Linked DNA regions of Homo sapiens. The protein of the gene in region 1 interacts with the protein of each later gene in a biochemical or structural test. Each region holds a gene or a part of one and is shown on either strand. Other genes may lie near its edges.

What was found. Proteins that work in one complex are often made in the same cells at the same time.
Region 2: the proteins of SYNGR3 (region 1) and SLC6A3 form a complex in vitro, tested with the Homo sapiens proteins (one study listed by BioGRID).

What each region holds. Positions count from the first base shown.
Region 1 is NC_000016.10:1,987,754-1,993,447, reverse strand, and holds the start of SYNGR3 (synaptogyrin-3), read right to left. Parts: upstream 3,479-5,694; 5' UTR 3,346-3,478; coding exon 3,247-3,345; intron 1,475-3,246; coding exon 1,237-1,474; intron 813-1,236; coding exon 670-812; intron 586-669; coding exon 376-585; 3' UTR 1-375. UniProt on the Homo sapiens protein: May play a role in regulated exocytosis. May indirectly regulate the activity of the plasma membrane dopamine transporter SLC6A3 and thereby regulate dopamine transport back from the synaptic cleft into the presynaptic terminal.
Region 2 is NC_000005.10:1,417,941-1,421,620, forward strand, and holds part of SLC6A3 (sodium-dependent dopamine transporter), read right to left. Parts: intron 2,764-3,680; coding exon 2,629-2,763; intron 1-2,628. UniProt on the Homo sapiens protein: Mediates sodium- and chloride-dependent transport of dopamine. Also mediates sodium- and chloride-dependent transport of norepinephrine (also known as noradrenaline). Regulator of light-dependent retinal hyaloid vessel regression, downstream of OPN5 signaling.

The sequences.
Region 1 (5,694 bases):
CCCCGCTTTGTCCTGGGCAGCCCCTGCACCTGATCGTAGAGGGCAGCTGGACCCCCAACCCCAGAGTGAGCAGGTGTGGCCCAAGAGGGGAAAGCCTTCCCCAGGCCAGTCCATTCCAGGCTAGGGACACACGTCCTGGGCAGTGCTATCCCCTTCTCAGGACCTCAGTCCTGGGGCCAGGTGCTGAGGGACTGGGGGAACTTGGCAGGGGCAGCCCAGACACGCGGGTCCACCCCCTCTTGGCCCCGGATGGCGCAAAGCGGCCACCTACTCTGTCCGCGGCACTGAGCTGGAAGGACCCAAGGGAGGTCCCGGAGACCCTGGGGCCTGCGTTGGTGGGGTGGCCTTGGAGCCCTGGTCTGTGCCTGCCAGCCGCTAGTAGGCGGGCACCTGGTACCCTTTGGGGCTGGTGTCCAGGGTCTCGGTGAAGGGCGGGCTCTGGTAGGTCTCGGTGCCCTCCACGCCGCTGCCCACCGGATAGCCGGGGTAGGCCTGGCTCGCCCCGGTGCTCAGCTGTTCGGTGGCGAAGAGTGACATGTCGGTGCCCAGGCGGAACCGCTGCAGGGCCTTCACGGTGAGCGCCACCTGCGCGGGGCGGGGTCAGCGGGGTCAGCCGGGATCAGCCGAGCGCCCGCCCCTTCGCCCCGCCCTCCCGGGCCCCGCACTCACCCAGCTGAGGATGGAGAAGAAGCTGAAGGCGATGGCGGCCCGCGCCGCGTCCCCCGCCTGCGTCGTGGCCGGCCCTGGCGCCGTGCGCTGCCACTGATTGGTGAGGAAGCAGAAGCCCACGAACCACAGGAAGGACCAGAGTCCTGCGAACAGTGCGGCGCGTCAGGGCGACGCTCCACGCGGTGGCCCACGGCGGCCTCGCCCGGAGGAGGAAAGGTCGGTGGGCCCGAGGCTTGGGGCGCCTCGCCTGGGCTCGCCGCGTGGCGCGAGGTCCCGCCTCCCTCTCCTGCGCTGACCCCGCCCACCCGGGAGCGCCAGACCCGTTCCGCGCCCAGGCTCCGCCCAGACCCGGGCCCCGCCTACCTAGAAAGTCCCGCGGCGCTCCCCGTCCAGGCTCCGCCCCCTCCCCGCCCACCCGGGAGGCCCATTGACACTCCCTGCCTCAGTCCCCGCCCCTCGTCACGGCCACGCCCAGCTGGAAACTCCAGCGGTGTTCCCCGCCCAGGCCCCGCCCCCTCCCCGCCCACCCGGAAGGCTCTCCGCGCTCACCGCCCCGGCCCCGCCCACCTGAGAAGCCCAGGTCCAGCAACACCGCGCGCCGGCGGTCGCGGACGCTGCTGATTTGCTGGAAGCGCACATCGAGCAGCAGGAAGGCGGCGCAGGCGAGGAAGGCTCCGAGGCCCAGCGCGACGCCGAAGCGGCAGGCGCCCGCGTTCCCGTTGAACACGCAGCGCAGCTCGGGGCCGCTGTCGGTGTTCACGTAGCCCTCGTTGACGATGGGCCCGAAGACGGCGATGGAGAACACCTGCGTGCGGCGCGGCGCTCAGGGCCCTGCGGCGACCCGACCTCTGCGAGCCCGCCTCGAGCGCCCACGCCCCTGGGCCTGTCCCTGCGTTCCCAGGCCCGTATCTGGGTGGGGGGCGGTGTCACCTCTTTCTTTCCCGAACCCTCGCGTATTTAGTAATTATTGACAACACGGGCCGTTTAGTGAGCATCTACTATGCCCAGACATTGTGTTAAACAGCCACTTTACATGCGTCCCCTCACCAAATCCTCAGAAAGTCCCCGTGGGATCGCCATTGTTCTTATTCTCTTTATAAATGCGGGGGACATTGGGACCCCAACAGGTGAAGTGACTTGTCCGGGATCACATGGCTGACAAAAGCCGGGGTTGATTCAAGCCAGGTACTCTGCACCGCGTGGGCCCGTGGAGTCCCCTCAGAGCCCACTCAAGAGTGTGGGAACAGGAGCCTTCACCTGGGCCCGCGATTCCCAGGCTGGAGCCGGAACGGCGAAGGGGAGGTGAGAGTGCAGCAGGCAGAGCGGGGCGGGAGGGAGGGTATGGAGGCAGCGGAGCTGTTGCTTCCTGCGCGGTTGGGAACTGTCTGGCCTGTTTTCTAGCATGCAAATAGGGTGACGGGCACAGCTCATGCAGTGCTGGGACAGACATGTCCACCCAGCTTCCTGCACGTGGTGGGTACCCGAGGGATGACAGCCCCCACGTGACTGATTATTAATATCACCTGTAAGTGTTTGGGCTGAAAAGATGACACCGTTGACCTCTGAGGTTCCGTCAAACCTCAATGCCTCCTGCCCACCAGTTCCGGGAGACAGGCATGAGGGGGACCGCAGTCATTTTAACCAGCGCTGCACGGGGCAGCCCTGTGTTTCCAAGAAACGACCTCCAGCCTCAACCTCATCCCTTCGCTCCTTTCCCGCTCCAGCTCCGAGAGTGGAGCCAAGGGGGAAGCCGGGACATGCACTTGTCCCCAAGAGTGGGCCACAAGTCGGGACGTGCGCTCGGACCAAAACGCAGCGTCCTGCCTCCCGGTCTGGTCAGAGCCACTCCGCAGGGGAGGCCAAAGCCCCTGCCCCACCGTGGGCACCGCCCTCCTCCAAGACAGGCGCCGAGGTGCGGCTGGCCCAGAGGTTGCCACCTGGACAAAACCCAGAGCTCGGCACCCAACTGCCACCTCCCCTGCCGGAGGGAAGGAGCAGCAGGGCCCTCCCAGGGACGCCCCAGTGGGCTAGGCTGCTCCCAAACCTGCCTTCCACACCGCCGCCAGGAAGCCCTCCCAGCCCAGAGCCTCTCCTCCCTCAACTCACAGCTGGAACTGGGGGCCAGGGGACAGGCTCCCTGCCAAGGAGACCCGAGGGTGTGTGTGCGGGGGAAGGGGAGGCGCTTCTCGGTTCCCGTAGCCCCCTCCTGCCCCTCGGAGAATTCCGTCCCCACCCCGTCCCTGCTTCCAGGTCACGAGAACAGGAAAAACGGAGTAAGGGCTGCGGAAAGGGACTGAAATTAGACCCGGGGAGGAGGTAGGGGTAGAGGCGACCGGCGGTGACCTCTCAAGGTCCCTCTCCGGCGCCGCCGGCCCCTCCTCCGCCCGCAGGTGGGCGCGCCCTGCCCGGTGACGTCACCCCAACCTGAGGCCGGCGGGGGAGGGGCCGGCGAGGATGAGAGTGAGTGAGGTCGGGGGGCGAGAAGCAGGGGGCAGGGGGTAGGGGGCAGGGGGCTGGTAGGGGCCTGAAGGTCGCGAGGCAGGGGCGGGAGCGGGGGCCCGGGCAGGGACCACTCACCCAGGACGCGACCCGGAGCAGGGTCTGGGGCCGCCGCGCAAAGCTCACGGGGTCCAGGGCGGCCCCTGCGCGGCCCGCGCCGAAGGAGGCGCCCTCCATGGCCGGCCCGGGCGGGACGCGCGCCCCTGGCGCCTTCTGTCCGCCTGTCCGTCCGGCCGGCCCCGCCCGAGGCCGCTGCCGCTGCCGCTGATGCTGATGCTGATGCTACCAACGCTGCAGCCGCTGCCGCCTCCCGGGAGCGCGCGCCGGCCGCGGCGGGGACGCGCGGGACGGGGCGGGGCCGCGCCCGCGCCCCCCACTGGGTCCATGCGCGCGGGGCCGGGTCCCTCCTCTCCCTCCGCCGCGCCCACCTCCCATCCCCCACCCTCACCTGCCTGCCCCGGTCCCGAGATGGAGACCATCCTCAGGAACCCACCAGCCAGGTCCCCGGGGGCAGGGTGGGGCTCGGGTGCTGGGCGCAGACTTTGCTAGAGCCGGGAGGACAGACAGGAGGAGTCCGCTCCTCTGGGAAGGGCACTTGGGTGAGGGAGTAAAGGGGTAGGAGGTCCACGGGCTGCAGCATCTTCCCCCAACCCACGGGAGAGGGGACCGGCTCCCTGGCCCTGGTCCCAAGAAGACCAGATGGATAACTGGGGTCTTTCTCATGGCCCCCCACTGTGCTCTAGCTGCTATCACAGCTTCTAGCCTCTGGCGGGGAGGATCTGGTGGGAAGAAAGGCGTTGGCCCCAGGAGCACCTGTTGAGGGAGGGGACAGAGCCACCGTGGCCAGCGCCGCTGGGAGTGTTGGTTTCGGTGTCTCCGCTCCTTGCCCGTGGCCAGGTGGTGGTGCTCCCAATGCCCTCCCTACTCCTGGGTCTCCCCAGCGTACTTGCGGCGCCTAGTCTGGAATGGAGGGCAGGGAGCGGCATCAGAGACTAGGAGTCGGGTGGGGGTGGTGCCTGGCTGCCCTGTGTCCCGCTGAGTCCCCTCCACAGACCCCAGCCTTGGGTGCAACAAGGTCCCTCTCCTCATGTTCCTAGCAGGCTGGAAGTTCAGATGACTCCTAGGTTTCTGTCTAGAGCACTGAGATGTCTGCACTGACATTTACAGCGCCAAGCGCTTGACCTGTGTAGTGGCGGAGACTGTTACCACCCTGTACTTCAGATAATAAGCAACCCAGGTCCCTGCTACACGAGCCGGGTGCACAGATGGTGCTGCGTGGCCCAGCCCCCCTGGAGCTCATTCTTCAGCCTTGCTGGGCACAGGTGGGCAGAGCAGGTGTTGCCAGAGGCGCTACTCACTGTGTTCCAAGTCCATCACACTGTGCGTCCGATCACAACCCCTCTCACCTGTTGGCCACAGACCTCCCCTCTGTGTCATTCATTCTCTACTTCATCACTAACATCAGCACCCAGACATGCTGCACTTTCTCCTAAAAGCCAAACACTGTTGACCCCACCTCCCCTCCAGCTGCCTTACGTTACTGCTTCCTTTAGCAGCAAACTCTGCCTGCAACACCCTCCTCTCTCTCCCTCTGACCCGGCAGAATCAGCTCCCACCGCCACCTAAACTCAAGGTTGCCACTGACCTCTCCGTGCCAATCCCAAGGGCAAGTCTGATGCTGCTGTCGACTCATTTATTTCTTTAGTTATTTATTTATTTTTTGAGTTACAGTCGCACTCTGTTACCCAGGCTGGAGTGCAGTGGCGCAATCTTGGCTCACTGCAAGCTTTGCCTCAGGGGCTCAAGTGATTCTCCTACCTCAGCCACTGGAGTAGCTGGGATTCCAGGTGTGCCACCGCACCCAGCTAATTTTTTTTTTTTTTTTTTTTGTATTTTTAGTAGAGACGGGGTTTCGCCATGTTGACCAGGCTGGTCTCGAACTCCTGACTTCAAGTGATCTGCCCACCTTGGTTTCCCAAAGTGCTGGGATTACAGGCGTGAGCCACTATGCCCCTCCTGGAGGTCCTCCTCCCTCATGGGTCCTTCCTCTGTGACCTGTGAGCCTTAGGAGCCCAGGGCGCGATCCTGGGGAGGTCTCTCCCTCTGTGCTAACTCCTTTGGTCTGCGTGTCAACAGCTCTGGAACACCAGCTCAAGCCAGAACTTTTCCTTGCACTAGAGTTCCACTGGCCTGGATGCCTTCAAAAACAGACTCTGGCCTGGCGCAGTGGCTCACGCTTGTAATCTCAGCACCTTGGGAAGCTGAGGTGGGTGGTTCATGAGGTCAGGAGTTCAAGACCAGCCTGGCCAACACAGTGAAACCCTGTCTCTACTAAAAATACAAAAATTAGCAGGGGGTGGTGGTGGGCGCCTGTGATCCCAGCTGCTCGGGAGGCTGAGGCAGGAGAAATTGCTTGAACCCGGGAGATGGAGGTTGCAGTGAGCCGAGACTGCTCCACTGCACTCCAGCCTGGGCGACAGAGCTAGACTCTGTCTCAGAAAAACAAAACAACAACAAAAAGAAAAA
Region 2 (3,680 bases), on another chromosome or scaffold:
CCCTCTGTCCTTTGGGCAGCATGTCAGAGCCTCAAGGCAACCCCAGTTCCTGGGACAGTGTGTTTGGAGGCAGATGGCCAGGCCCCGCAGTCAGGACTCTGCAGGTGGCCAGTGTTTCAGCATGAGGGGAGGAGCCAAGCCGAGAGTGGCTGGGTGGGCAGTGGGTGGAGAGGCTCATACCCTGATGTGGCTCCCATGCTGGTCATCAGCCACCTGCCTGGCCAGGTAGCTGCAGGCTGGATCAGGTGTCACAGGGGAGCGCCTGCCTCCTCCTCACCCTGATCTGTGTGTGCAGCTCAGGCCTCTGCCCAGTGCCACACCAGAGCCAGTGCCCATGGCTGCCTCCCTGGGCCTCACCTCATGCACTTTCACTCCAGGACCTGCAATTGTCCTTTCCTTCCATTTCTTTCCTGATTTCTCTTCACTATACATCAATCCATCATCTATTATCTATCAATCAATCATCTATCTATCTATCATCTATCACTGTCATCTATCAATCCATCACCAATCTATCATCTATCTGTCATCTCTATAATCTATCAACTGTCTATCATCTATGAATATATGAAGTACATGTGTGTGTATGTATCTATCTCCATCCATCCTATTGTATATCCATCCTATCTACCTACCTATCATCCATCCATCCACCCATCCATCATCCATCCATCCACCCATCCATCATCGATCCATCCATCCATGCTATCCAGCTACCTATCATTCATCCATCCACCCATCTGTCCATCATCCACCAATCCACCCATCATCCATCCATCCATCCATCCACCCACCCATCCATCATCCATCCATCCATCCATGCTGTCCAGCTACCTACCTATCATTCATCCATCCACCCAAACATCCATCATCCAGCAATCCACCCATCATCCATCCACCCACCCGTCATCCATCCATTATCCATCCATCCATCCATCCTATCTAGCTACCTACCTATCATTCATCCACCCATTCACCCATCCATCATCCATTCATCATCCATCCATCCATCCATCCATGCTATCCAGCTACCTACCTATCATTCATCCATCCACCCAGCCATCCATCATCCAGCAATCCACCCATCATCCATCCACCCATCCATCCCATCCATCATCCATCCATTATCCATCTGTCCATCCTATCTAGCTACCTATCATTCATCCACCCATTCACCCATGCATCATCCATTCATCCATCCATCCATCCATCCATCATCCATCCATCCATACTATCCAGCTACCTACCTATCATCCATTCCTCCATCCACCCATCCATTATCCATACATCCAGCCAGCCAGCCTTCCATCCACCCATCCTATCTATCCATTCTATCTACCCACCTATCATCCATCCATCCTATCCACCTACTTACCTAGCATTCATCCATCCATCCATCCATCCATCCATCCATCCATCCATCCATCCAATCTATTCACTGTCTCCACCTAATTTCTGACATCTCATCTTTGTAATTTGTTCTCCAGTGAGCATCTTTTCACATGCACTGGTGTTTGTTTTGCCTCCTCCTGGGGCTGCCTATTCTTCCTAGCTGGAGCACTAGGCTCTACGTTGTCCTTGTGGTATTTTTCTTTGATTCTGTAACATGCCATGGTCCTGCAAACACACCCCTTGGCTTCATTTTGGCCTTTCTGGGGTCCAGACGCCCTGCTGACTTCATGGTTTGTCTGGCTCCAGCTCTGCACTTGTGGGCCCCCGGCCACAGCTGATTTTGCTGCCCTGGTTGTCCTCCTCTCTCTTCCTTGGCTCCCGTGGGCCACACGCCTGCTGCACCCATGGCTCCTGTCTCCACAGGGCTTCCCCTTCAGTGCTGCAGGCACACTTCCACCCCCACCCCCACCCAACTGCTTTGCAGCCTCATAGGTGCCATGTCCAGGTGCCCTCTCTCACTGCACCTGTCAGCTGCTGCCTCCCTGGGGCTTCCTGGGAGGCTTGCAGCCATGCCCGCCCATCCCTTCTCCCCTTCCTTCCCACTTCTGCCTTGGGTTTACACTTGCCTCATGACCCCCAGACCTGGCTCCACCGGCCCACCCACACAGGGCAGCACCTCTCAACGGCCTCCTGCCTCATACCCCAGCTGAGATGGCCCTTCCCCTCTTGCTGCATTGTCCTCCCACAGCAACATGGATGCCCCTGGGCGGCTTTGGGGCCTGCCACCTCCCCCACTTAGTCCACCTGATTTCCAACGATGCCCCAAGGGAGCTGCCATTTTTGTCATGCCAGCCTTCCGCCAACAGCTGCTTCTGTTTCTGGGCCTGTTTGCCAGGAAGGGTGCAGCCCTTTCTCCTCCCTTTCTGGACAAGGGTCCCATCCCCCATGGCCCAGCTGAGTCTCCTCTCTCCGGGAGGCTTTCTCCAAATATTTTAACCCTGAATTATGTCTTCTTTTGCTGACCAAAGCTGCAGCCTGAGTCTAGATGGAGTTTCTGATGTAATTTGATTTAGATGACTCGTGCTGTATCACAGGTACTTGGGATTTGGCTTCCCGAGGAAAGAACCCTGGTGTCTGCAACTCTGACACCTCTCAGCCCTGGCAGGCAATGCATATGGAAACCTGGGAATGCCAGAGCCCCTGTGGACTGTGAAGCAGTGAGCAGACTGTACTCACAGACGCCTCGCAGAGCCGGTAGAAGTCAACGCTCAGGTATGCTCTGATGCCGTCTATGGCTCCAGGGAGGGTGACCCCACGCAGGAGCAGGGCAGTGAGGACCACGTATGGCATGGTGGCTGTGATCCATACCACCTGCAGGAGAGGACAGTGTCACCAGGCTGCACAGGCAGGGCCCTTGGTGGGAGCAGACACTGGCACAAGGGCACCGGGTTGCCCTGACGGCTTGTCCTCTGATTGGGAGGCCCAATTCCCAAACATTTCCTGGGACGCCAGCTCAGCAAATGCTCCTTGGAGTGAGAAGGTCAGACACTTTCTGTCCTGCACACCCTCCCCAGGGATGGAAAGGGAAGAACAACTTGGCAGGGAAAGCACATTCCTTTTCTGCATTCGGTCCGCCAGAGTAGCTGGGAGTGGCTGATGGGGGTTTTCTGATGCGTGGGACGTGAGTGGATTCACACTGGTGAACGGCACTGTGGCACGATGAAGGGCTGCTCTGGGCTGTGTCCCTGCGGGAGGCTCCCGTGGCTGGTGCCATACTACACGCACTTTTCCAAGGGAGGAGTCGTATCTTGGTCAAAACTGGTTTTGGCCCATATAACAACCAAAGTTTTTTTTTTTTTTTTGAGATGGAGTTTTGCTCTTTTTGCCCAGGCTGGAGTGCAGTGGCATGATCTTGGCTCACTGCAACCTCCGCCTCCTGGGTTCAAGCAATTCTCCTGCCTCAGCCTCCCACGTAGCTGGGATTATAGGCACGTGCCACCGTGCCTGGCTAATTTCGTATTTTTAGTAGAGATGGGGTTTCATCATGTTGGCCAGGCTGTTCTTGAACCCCTGACCTCAGGTGATCTGCCCGTCTCAGCCTCCCAAAGTATTTTTATCAACAAAAAAATCATCTTGTGTGTGCCTTCCTGCCAGAAACACTGCTGTGAGTGCTTCCCTCCTGAGGCCCTTCCCCAAACACAGCCACACGTGGACCCAAAACCCAACTGTGCCGTGTGTCCGCCCAGCCCAGCCACGGCCACGTGTCCCCCCACCCACCCATGGCCGCG